2 separate regions of the Homo sapiens genome follow, and region 1 is linked to region 2. Evidence: fine-mapped expression QTL. A gene starts in region 2. The other region holds a variant in brackets. All regions are shown on one strand. Distances are from middle to middle.

What was found. PIP is the estimated chance that this variant, and not a neighbour inherited with it, causes the effect. A credible set is the group of variants that fine-mapping cannot tell apart.
Region 1: its variant is the best candidate, but not a certain one, in a credible set for the expression of CBLN1 in skeletal muscle (GTEx, PIP 0.76).

The regions. Positions count from the first base shown.
Region 1 is chr16:48,965,819-48,970,200 of GRCh38, reverse strand. No RefSeq gene overlaps it. Among named protein-coding and RNA genes, the nearest start is that of CBLN1, 310 kb to the left of the region's middle. The variant A/C (reference allele first, on the strand shown) is at 2,109.
Region 2 is chr16:49,279,915-49,284,296 of GRCh38, reverse strand. CBLN1 (cerebellin 1 precursor) reads left to right here and starts at 2,459. Exons shown (of 3, transcript NM_004352.4): 1 at 2,459-3,095; 2 at 3,255-3,374. The coding sequence starts at 2,832. SYNAGE (synapse stability regulating cerebellar lncRNA) reads right to left here and starts at 2,235. Exons shown (of 4, transcript XR_933530.4): 1 at 2,065-2,235. RefSeq lists silencers at 1,806-1,905, 2,276-2,385 and an enhancer at 2,738-3,355.

The sequences.
Region 1 (4,382 bases), 310 kb after region 2:
TTTTGTGCTGCTGTAACAGAAACCTGAAATTGGGTAATTTATAATTAACATAAATGTATTGGTTCATAATTCTGAAGGCTGGGAAGTTCAAGATCAAGGGGCTGGCAACTGGTAAGGGCCTTCTTGTTGTGTTATCCCATGGCAGAAGGGCAAAGAAAGAGCAAGAGATCAAACTTGCAGCCTCAAACCATTTTATAACCAGCATTAATCCATTCATGAGCGTGGAGCCCGCATGATCTAAACACCTCCCACTGGGCCCTGCCTCTCAACACTGTTGCTTTGGGGATTAAGTTTCCAACACATGCATTTTGGGGTGACCCAAGCCTGGCAGTGGTCCAAGCCTAGCTTCCCAGGCCAGATCATTTCTCTGTCACTTCTGCTGTAACCCTCTAAAAACAGAGAACTGGCTGTAGTCCTCCACTCACCCCCACTCTGCTATTTCTTGACTCGACTTTTGCTCATGCAGTGATTTCTTACACCACTAGACTCAGTTCAGGTGTGACCTCACCCAGAGAGCCATCTCCAAAGCAGAATCAGGTGCCTCTCTCAGGTCCTCTTGAAGCACACTCTGGCCCCTTTCGCATGGCACTTCTCACCCGTATGTTAATTATTCATATATGCATGTATCTGTTCTCCCACCAGACTGTGAGCTCCATATGGATGAGCACTTGATTTCTCCCACCACAGTGTCTGCAGAACACAGAGACAGCTCTGTCTCTCTCTTGATCCATGTGTTTTGGGAGATCTGGCCCCACTTCCTATCTCCATGAAATTTCAGTGTTACCCTGGGTTTTTTTTTGTTTTTTTTTTTGAGACAGAGTCTCTCTCTGTTGCCCAGGCTGGAGTGCAATGATGCGAGCTCAGCTCACTGCAACCTCCACCTCCTGGGTTCAAGCGATTCTCCTGCTTCAGCCTCCCCAATAGCTGGGATTACAGGTGTGTGCCACCATGCCCAGCTAATTTTTGTATTTTTAGTAGAGATGGGGTTTTACCATGTTGGCCAAGCTGGTCTTGAACTCCTGACCTCAAGTAATCCGCCTCGGCCTCCCAAAGTGCTGGGATTACAGGTGTGAGCCATTGCGCCCTGCCTCATCCTGGCTTTTAAGTCAGTCAGTAGGAATGGTCATTAGGTCTGGGACGTTTTGTTCAAACTCTTGGGAAAGAAAGGCTGTCTTCTCAGCTTGACTTGGCATTGTGAGACTATGAAGCTAACGAGACTGCTGCCACCTCACCATCTTCAGGAGTTGGCCCATGTAAGAATGGGAGCCAAGAAAAGAAAAGAATAAATACTGAGTTCTGACGACACCATCTGAGCTCCACAAAACGGGCATCTCTCCTCCATTGGACTTCCCTTTTGTGTAAGCCAATAAATTTCTTTTCATTTTAAGCTGGCTTGAACTGTGTTTTCTGTCACTTGCAGCTGAAACAGGTCAGTAGATGTGCAAAGAAAGGGCATGGATGTCTCAGGCCCCTGTGTGGTCCCCTCGTACATTGAATAGGGCTGACATGTGTGACCAATGGGATATCGCAGAAGTCACTGCATGTCACTTGCAAGACTAGGCCATAAAGAACTTTGCAGCTTCCACCTTGCTCCCTCTGGGGATGCCAGCCATCATGTCATAAACACATTCATTCAGTCCCCCTGGAGGGGCCCAGGGAAGAACTGAGATGTCCACCAAATTGCCAGCCATGTGAGACAGATGCCTTGGAAGCAGATCTCCAGCATCAATCAGGCTTTCAAAAGGCTGCAGCCTCATCAGACACCCTGAGCAAGCACCCCAAATCCCTAACACACAGAAGCTGTTAGAACAATCAATCATTATTGTGGTTTGAAGTCACTACATTTTCGGGTAATTTGTTACACAGCAATGTGTACCTCCCAAATCAGCTGCTCCAACATGGAAACCCTGACCTTCAACATTCCTCAACCTTCAGATGGCACCAAAATTGACCCAGCTTTTCAGACCAATAAAATAAAAACCTAGGCGTCATCCTTGAATTCTTCATTTTTCTTGCACTCCACAGCCAGTTCAAATATTAATCATGTTGGTTTTGCCTCCAAAATACATCCTGAATCCAACCATTTTTCTCTACCTTCACCTCTATAA[A/C]CCTAGCGCGGCGACCCTAATCTCTCTTGACTGACACAATGGTCTCTGAACTGGTCTCAGCTGTGCTCTTAAATCCATATAAAAGACTCTTCTTGCAGTGAGAATAATCTTGTGAAAATTCACCACAGATCACATCATACCCCTGTTTGAAACCCTCCAATGGCTTCTCAGCTCCATTTGAATAAAATCCCAACTCCTTACCTGGGATTAAGGCCCTGCACGCTGGCTCCAGCTCCCTTACCAAACTCATCTCTTCTTATCCTCTATTATCCTCTGTGCTGCAGCACAACTGGCCTCTGTCTGCCCTGCAAACATGCAAGGACTGCTGTGGACAGGGTCCCACCTGATCACCCCTTTGGTAGGGCTTCTCACGGCTGTCCCTCATGATCCAGGCCTCAACTCAAATGTCACCACCCCAGACCTGCTTTAGCAGCCTCAACCTCCATTCTAGCCTTGGTTTACTGTCTTCTCCAAGCCATTTATCCTTACCTGAAACAGTATTATTTTTTTCAAAGGTCTTCCCTTCCCCACCCCCTCACTAAAATATAACCTTGGTGAGGGCAGAGGCCTTGTCTTGTTATTCACTGCTATGATTGTATGGCCTAGACCAGTGTCTGCTATATAGCAGGTGTTCAATACATTTTGTTGTCTGAACAGCTGACCAGTGTTCCACAGAATAGTCTTTGGGAAATACTGAGCTAAGTCATCTCAAAGGTCAGTTGCAGCTCCTAAAATGGTGCTGTTTCTTATTCAGCCTGATTCTGCTCTTCCCTTTGCAAAAGATGCATCCAATGGAAGGGAGAAAACTCATCTTCTCTTCGCAACTGGAGTTTTCTCATCATCTAGGTAGGGTGGTTGTGGCTTAGATAAGGCTAGTGGCTTCCTGAAAGCTCCACAGCCAGCCTGTGCCAGGGCTGGGAATCGGAATTCCACTCTGCCAACCCTGAGAAGCTTTGAGGTGGAGGAGAGGAGAACCAAAAGAGTTGGCAGAGCTTGTTTGCTAATGGAAGGGAAGTCACCATGATGCTGATGAAGCCCCAGGGCCCTCACTAACACTGATCCTTTCCAGGGCCCTCACAAGCACTGACCCTTCCCAGGGCCCTCACTCGCACTGACCCTTCCCAGGGCCCTCACTCGCACTGACCCTTCCCAGGGCCCTCACTCGCACTGACCCTTCCCAGGGCCCTCACTCGCACTGACCCTTCCCAGGGCCCTCACTCGCACTGACCCTTCCCAGGGCCCTCACAAGCACTGACCCTTCCCAGGGCCCTCACTCGCACTGACCCTTCCCAGGGCCCTCACATGCACTGACCCTTTTCAGGACCCTCATTCACACTGACCCTTTCCAGGGTCCTCACATGTACTGACCCTTTTCAGGGCCCCAGGAGAGGCACTAGCAATGGGCTCACATGTTCAGATGTTTTTGTACAACCTGCAAAAGCAAGGTATTTGAACCACATCAGCTGACTCCGCTATTTCTTTCCCCGGCCATGTGCTCCTGCCAGGCGATGTTGGGAAAGTGTGGGCATTTGGGGATCTGACTGGGAAGAGGTTGTGTCAGAGTTACATCTAGCATGAACATAAGGGGATATATTTACACAGTTTTCAATTGATCTCATGGAGACTTTAGCTTTTGCCAGCTGTTCTGGTGTAGGCATGACTTCCAGGAATATCTCTACTCGCTCCCTTTGTGTCATGACATGAAGAAACAAGGCCAGAGGTCACATCATGAGATGAACAGGCCCAAATGCACTCGACCCCAGAAAAGAGTGAGAAAGTGTAGGTCCTAGAAGCTAGTCTGTGGCTTGTGCCCCTAATCCTCAGACATGTGCAATGGGAAATGAAGAAGCTGGCTTTTGCTGATGCCTCATCAAAATGGAAGTTTTTTTCTGCAAAAGGATCTTTCTAATTTCCCTATAGACACATAATCATTGTCATGGGAAGAGGCAATCAAAGAGTATAAAGCCAATACATAGAGAGAATTTGGAAAATATTTTAGAGGTGTGTCAGCAGTTAATGAATACAAACGTCATGCTATTTTTTGGATTTTCTGATGTTTGTGGTGCCCATCTGTGGTGCTGTATAGCTTTCAGGAAGCCACTAGCACTATCTAAGTCAGCTTTTAAACTGTTTTTTTCATTATTTCTTTTTTTTTTTGCTCTAAATCAATATTCACTTTCATATCTAATTTCGTGTTCTTTTTTCTTAAAGAGGATCCCACAATTGGACAAGCTTCCCCTTGGAGCCTACATCCACACCTGATTATCAGCAGGG
Region 2 (4,382 bases):
TTCTTGGGAATTTTCACCTCGTGGGGGGGCGGGGGGGTCGTGCAGCTGTTGTCAGTGGGAAAGGGAAAAAGGAAAAGGCTGAGTTTGGAAGGCAGGGAGGGAGGAGACAATGTGAGTCAGTGAAAAAGGGCCCTTAGAATGACAAGTCTGGACCAGAGAGAGGCTAAGACTGAAAATACAAGTTGGGTAACCACTGGCATACAGATGGCAGTTCAGGCTTGGGCACTGCCCACCAGAGCCTCAGCATGAAGAGAAGAGGGGGAGGCTGGCCACCACCTCCCTCTAGGTAATCGTCATCCTGATGCTGAGCTCCTGAAAACAGGCTCTTTCACTCGCCCCATCTCTTGCTCTTGATTGCAACCCGGCATTCAGGAGGCACCCTGTAATATCTGTGGAGTGACCGACAACACAGCGCCAGGGCACTGAGAAGATCCCAGGGCGCCAGGGACTGGTTCTACAAGGGTGCCCCTCCCGGTCCCCTCCAGCGCGCCGCCAGAGCTGCCAGTCTTGGCTGCTACACGGGAGGCAGCCTCATTATGCAGCTCTCACCTCTTAAATTAGTTCATGCTCTCACATTAGGTGTAATCACAGCTTGCAACGCTTTCTGGGGATGTCTCAGAAAGATCTGAGTTGAAAAAATATTTTTGTGTCATTTTAATTTAAAGTAAAATTGCTGCTTCTTCCCCGCCCCTTTCTTTCCTCCTGGCCCACCCAGCGACCCTGGCCGGCCGTGCTCAACGGGGGCGGGGGTCGGAGGTGAGATTTCCTCCACATAATTCCTTAAACAGCTATCAACTAAGTCTCAAAGAAAAAAAAAAGAGATCTAGAAGCAGAGACGTGGCTGCTGGCGATCCCAAAGCTGGTGTTCGCTCTTGGGGGAGAGCGTACCCTGGGGGAGGCCGGGAGGCCGGGCCAGAGGCTAGCCCAGAGGCAGAGGGCAGGAGCGCTCAGCCGGCGCCCCGCGTCTCTCCAGCTCCCGACGCTGCGCTGGCTCCGCTGAGCACGCCAGGATCAAGGTCGCCTGGTGGGGACCGGAGCGCCAGGAGCCTGTGGGAAGCGTTCCAGCCGGCCTCTGACTGGGATCCGGCGCCGCGTTTCTGCTTTGGACTTGACTGACAGGTCCCCCCGCCCTCCCGCCGCCCTACTACCAGCCTGGGTTCATCCTTCAGGGCTACGTCTACCGCACCCGGGCTGGAAAGCCTGGAGCGCGCCCTTCCTCTCCTCATCTTCTCAGCTCTCCTTTCTCCCTGCCACTTGGCAAAGCTGCATTTTGACTTTCACGTTTTGGACTACGTGTGTGTAGTTCCAAGTCCATGCGTGGCACGAAAATCCACTTAGGGTAAAAATTATTCTCGAAAAATCGCCCATCTCAGGATCTGGTGTCTACACTCAAGGCTAGGAGGTGCAGGTACGGGTGCGTAAAGCATGCCGTAAGGGTGCACAGTAAATAAAAAGTACGGATGCAAAATGTAAATTTTAAGTGCAAAACAGAAAAGCAGTACTCGTTGCCGCCCCGCACGCTGGGTTTTAAGGGGCACGAAGGTGGGCCTCGGCTGCTTTTGCTCAGCCCCGCGTCCTCAGCGCCCGGCCCAGTACCCGGTACTCCGTAGGGGTTCAATGATCTCCCCTGAATAAGTGAACGAATTAACAAATGAATGAATGACCGCTCGATCCGACCTCCGCGGCCGGCAGAGCAGTCGCTGGAGAGGCGGGAGAGAGCGAGAGGCCAAGCTCCACCATCGCGGCCGCCGGCTGGGGCAGAGGGACACGGAGACACTCGGCGCCCCGGCTCCGCACCGAGTCCCCGCGGTGAGTGCCCGCCCAGCAGCTCCCGGGCACCACGTGCGCCCGCCAGAGCCGCGCAGGCCCCGCCCCGCCGCGCGCGCACGCGCCCTGCACCCCGGCCGCCGGGACCCTGAGCCAGGCTCGCCCAGCGCGCCGGCTGCCCTCGCGCCCGCGCCCGCTGGGGGGCGCTCCCCTCCCAACGGGCGCGCCCACAGGCGGGCAGGCGACTCGCAGCCTCCAGCGATTCCACTCCCGACCCCGGGGCGCGCCGCCTCCTACCTGAGGGCCGACGAGTGGGGGCGGGCAGGAGGGCCGAGGGAGGCGGAACAGGATCGAGGCGCGAGGCGGGAGTCGAGAAAGCGAGCGGCCGAGGCGACTCTCAGTGCGCGGACGCGGGCGCGCGCCCGCGCTCCCTTCGTCGACTCACGGCGAGAGCCCAACCCTGCTGCCGCGCGCCACCCGCCTCGCCGCGCCTAATAACAACGGCGCCCGGGGTCAGGTGGCCGAGCGCGGACAGCGCCGCCATTGGCTCGGTGGGGAGCGCGGCGCGTCAGGATTGGCTGGGGGGCGTGGCCTCGGCCGGGGCGGGGGCAGGGCCTCGGAGGGAGGCGGGCCGGGAGGCGGCGGGGGCGGGGCCAGGCCGAGGTCCGCGCCTTTGTGCCCGGCGCGCGCTCTCCGCCCGCTCCGGCTGCAGCGCCGGCTGCATCAATAATTCAGAGCGGCGGCGGCGGCGGCAGCGGCGGGTGCGGGCAGGAGGCGGCGGCAGCAGCGGGACCGAGCAGCAGCGGCTATGCATCCAAGTGCGGCTGGGCAGCCGCGGCACCCCTGAGGCCCGGGAGGGGCTCCGGGAACACAGCGCGGAGGGGACGCTAGTCGCGGAGGGGACGCTAGTCCCGGAGTGCGAGGAAGAGGTGTAGTGTCCAGAGCGGCGGCGGCGGAGCTGCGCACGGAGCTGAGGAGGGGGCTTCGGAGCGGGACTGGGACGGGGGGGGCGGCTGGCGCGAGCAGCCCTGGGGGTGGGGGGCGGGGTGGGCGCCGGCGGCGCGATGCTGGGCGTCCTGGAGCTGCTGCTGCTGGGGGCTGCGTGGCTGGCGGGCCCGGCCCGCGGGCAGAATGAGACGGAGCCCATCGTGCTGGAGGGCAAGTGCCTGGTGGTGTGCGACTCCAACCCCACGTCCGACCCCACGGGCACTGCCCTGGGCATCTCTGTGCGCTCTGGCAGCGCCAAGGTGGCTTTCTCTGCCATCAGGAGCACCAACCACGAGCCGTCCGAGATGAGTAATCGCACCATGATCATCTACTTCGACCAGGTGAGTGTTCCTTCCTCCCGCGGCGTGCAGATTGGGCTGGTGAAGGAGGGATGGATGGAAGACCGATGCCCGGTCCTCTCCAAGGGCTCTGCGGAGGCGCGGGGACGACAGTCCGGGACCGATTCCTGCCCACTCCCCTTCGTTCCCGTCTCGTTATAGGTACTAGTGAACATTGGGAACAACTTTGATTCAGAACGCAGCACTTTCATCGCCCCGCGCAAAGGGATCTACAGTTTTAACTTCCACGTGGTAAAAGTCTACAACAGACAAACCATACAGGTCAGCCGACGCCTCGTGCCGGGCCCTGGCCCCGTAGGGGGGTTACTGGCCTCAGGGGTGCTCGGGCTGTCCGGAGGTGGTAGGCAGAAGTGGCGGCTGCATGTACTTCGGGCTGCTTGGAGGGACAGATAGCGGGGCCTCTCAGTTCTGTGGCTTCAACTGTCCTCTGCTTTCCCTGTCTCTGGCTCTTGGGATCCAGCCCCATCCCCCGAGAGACAGAATTTTCTGCTTCTGCCTTCCGGGCCTCTCCGAAGGGTTCCCTGGATTTCAGGGACTTCCTTGTAACGGCTGTTGTTAGCGCCCCAGACAGCTGCCGCTTGGGAAGCCTTCCCGGACTCCCCAGGAAGCACCGCGACAGTACACCCTACCCCTTGCCCCGGCTCAGAAGCCTGCGATGCGGCTTGCGTGCTTGTCTTCAGCACCACGGACGGGGCCCCCGTTTTCTCCCACTTGTCCCCAATCCCCACCCCGTGCGGACTGTGGGTTTTTGAGCTAGCAGCATTTAGCCCCGGAGGGTGAGGGGTAGAGAGAGGAGGGAGGGAGGGGGCGTAGTGCTACTCTCTCCCGGCTCCAGCCGTGTCCCAGCAATCACTCGCCGGCTCTCCGGGTCCCCAAAGATGTCCAGGTTTCCCTTGGGCGCCGAGAGAGGTGGGACGCACAGCTGGGGAGAGGGCGCGAGGCCCTTGGCTGACGGTGCCACCACAGGGGCAAAACCAGGCGGTGGCGGGCGCGGCTGGATGGGGGAGGGAATTGAGCCCGTGGTTTGGGGAGGAAATACATTGTGCCGCTCGGTGCGAGACTTCTAATCACAAATCACAGTGGCTTCTCCACTGTGTCCTGGCAGCTGGGTCCAGGAGGGATCAGGGGCTTTTTGTTTGTTCGTTTTTGTTTTTCCGGTAGCGCCAGAAGGAGCCTGAGTTGCTGGGTTTTTTTTGTTTGTTGTTTGTTTTTTGAGGCTGAGGGGAAACGGGAGAGAGGTCAAAGGTCTCAGGGCGCTAGAGCCACCTC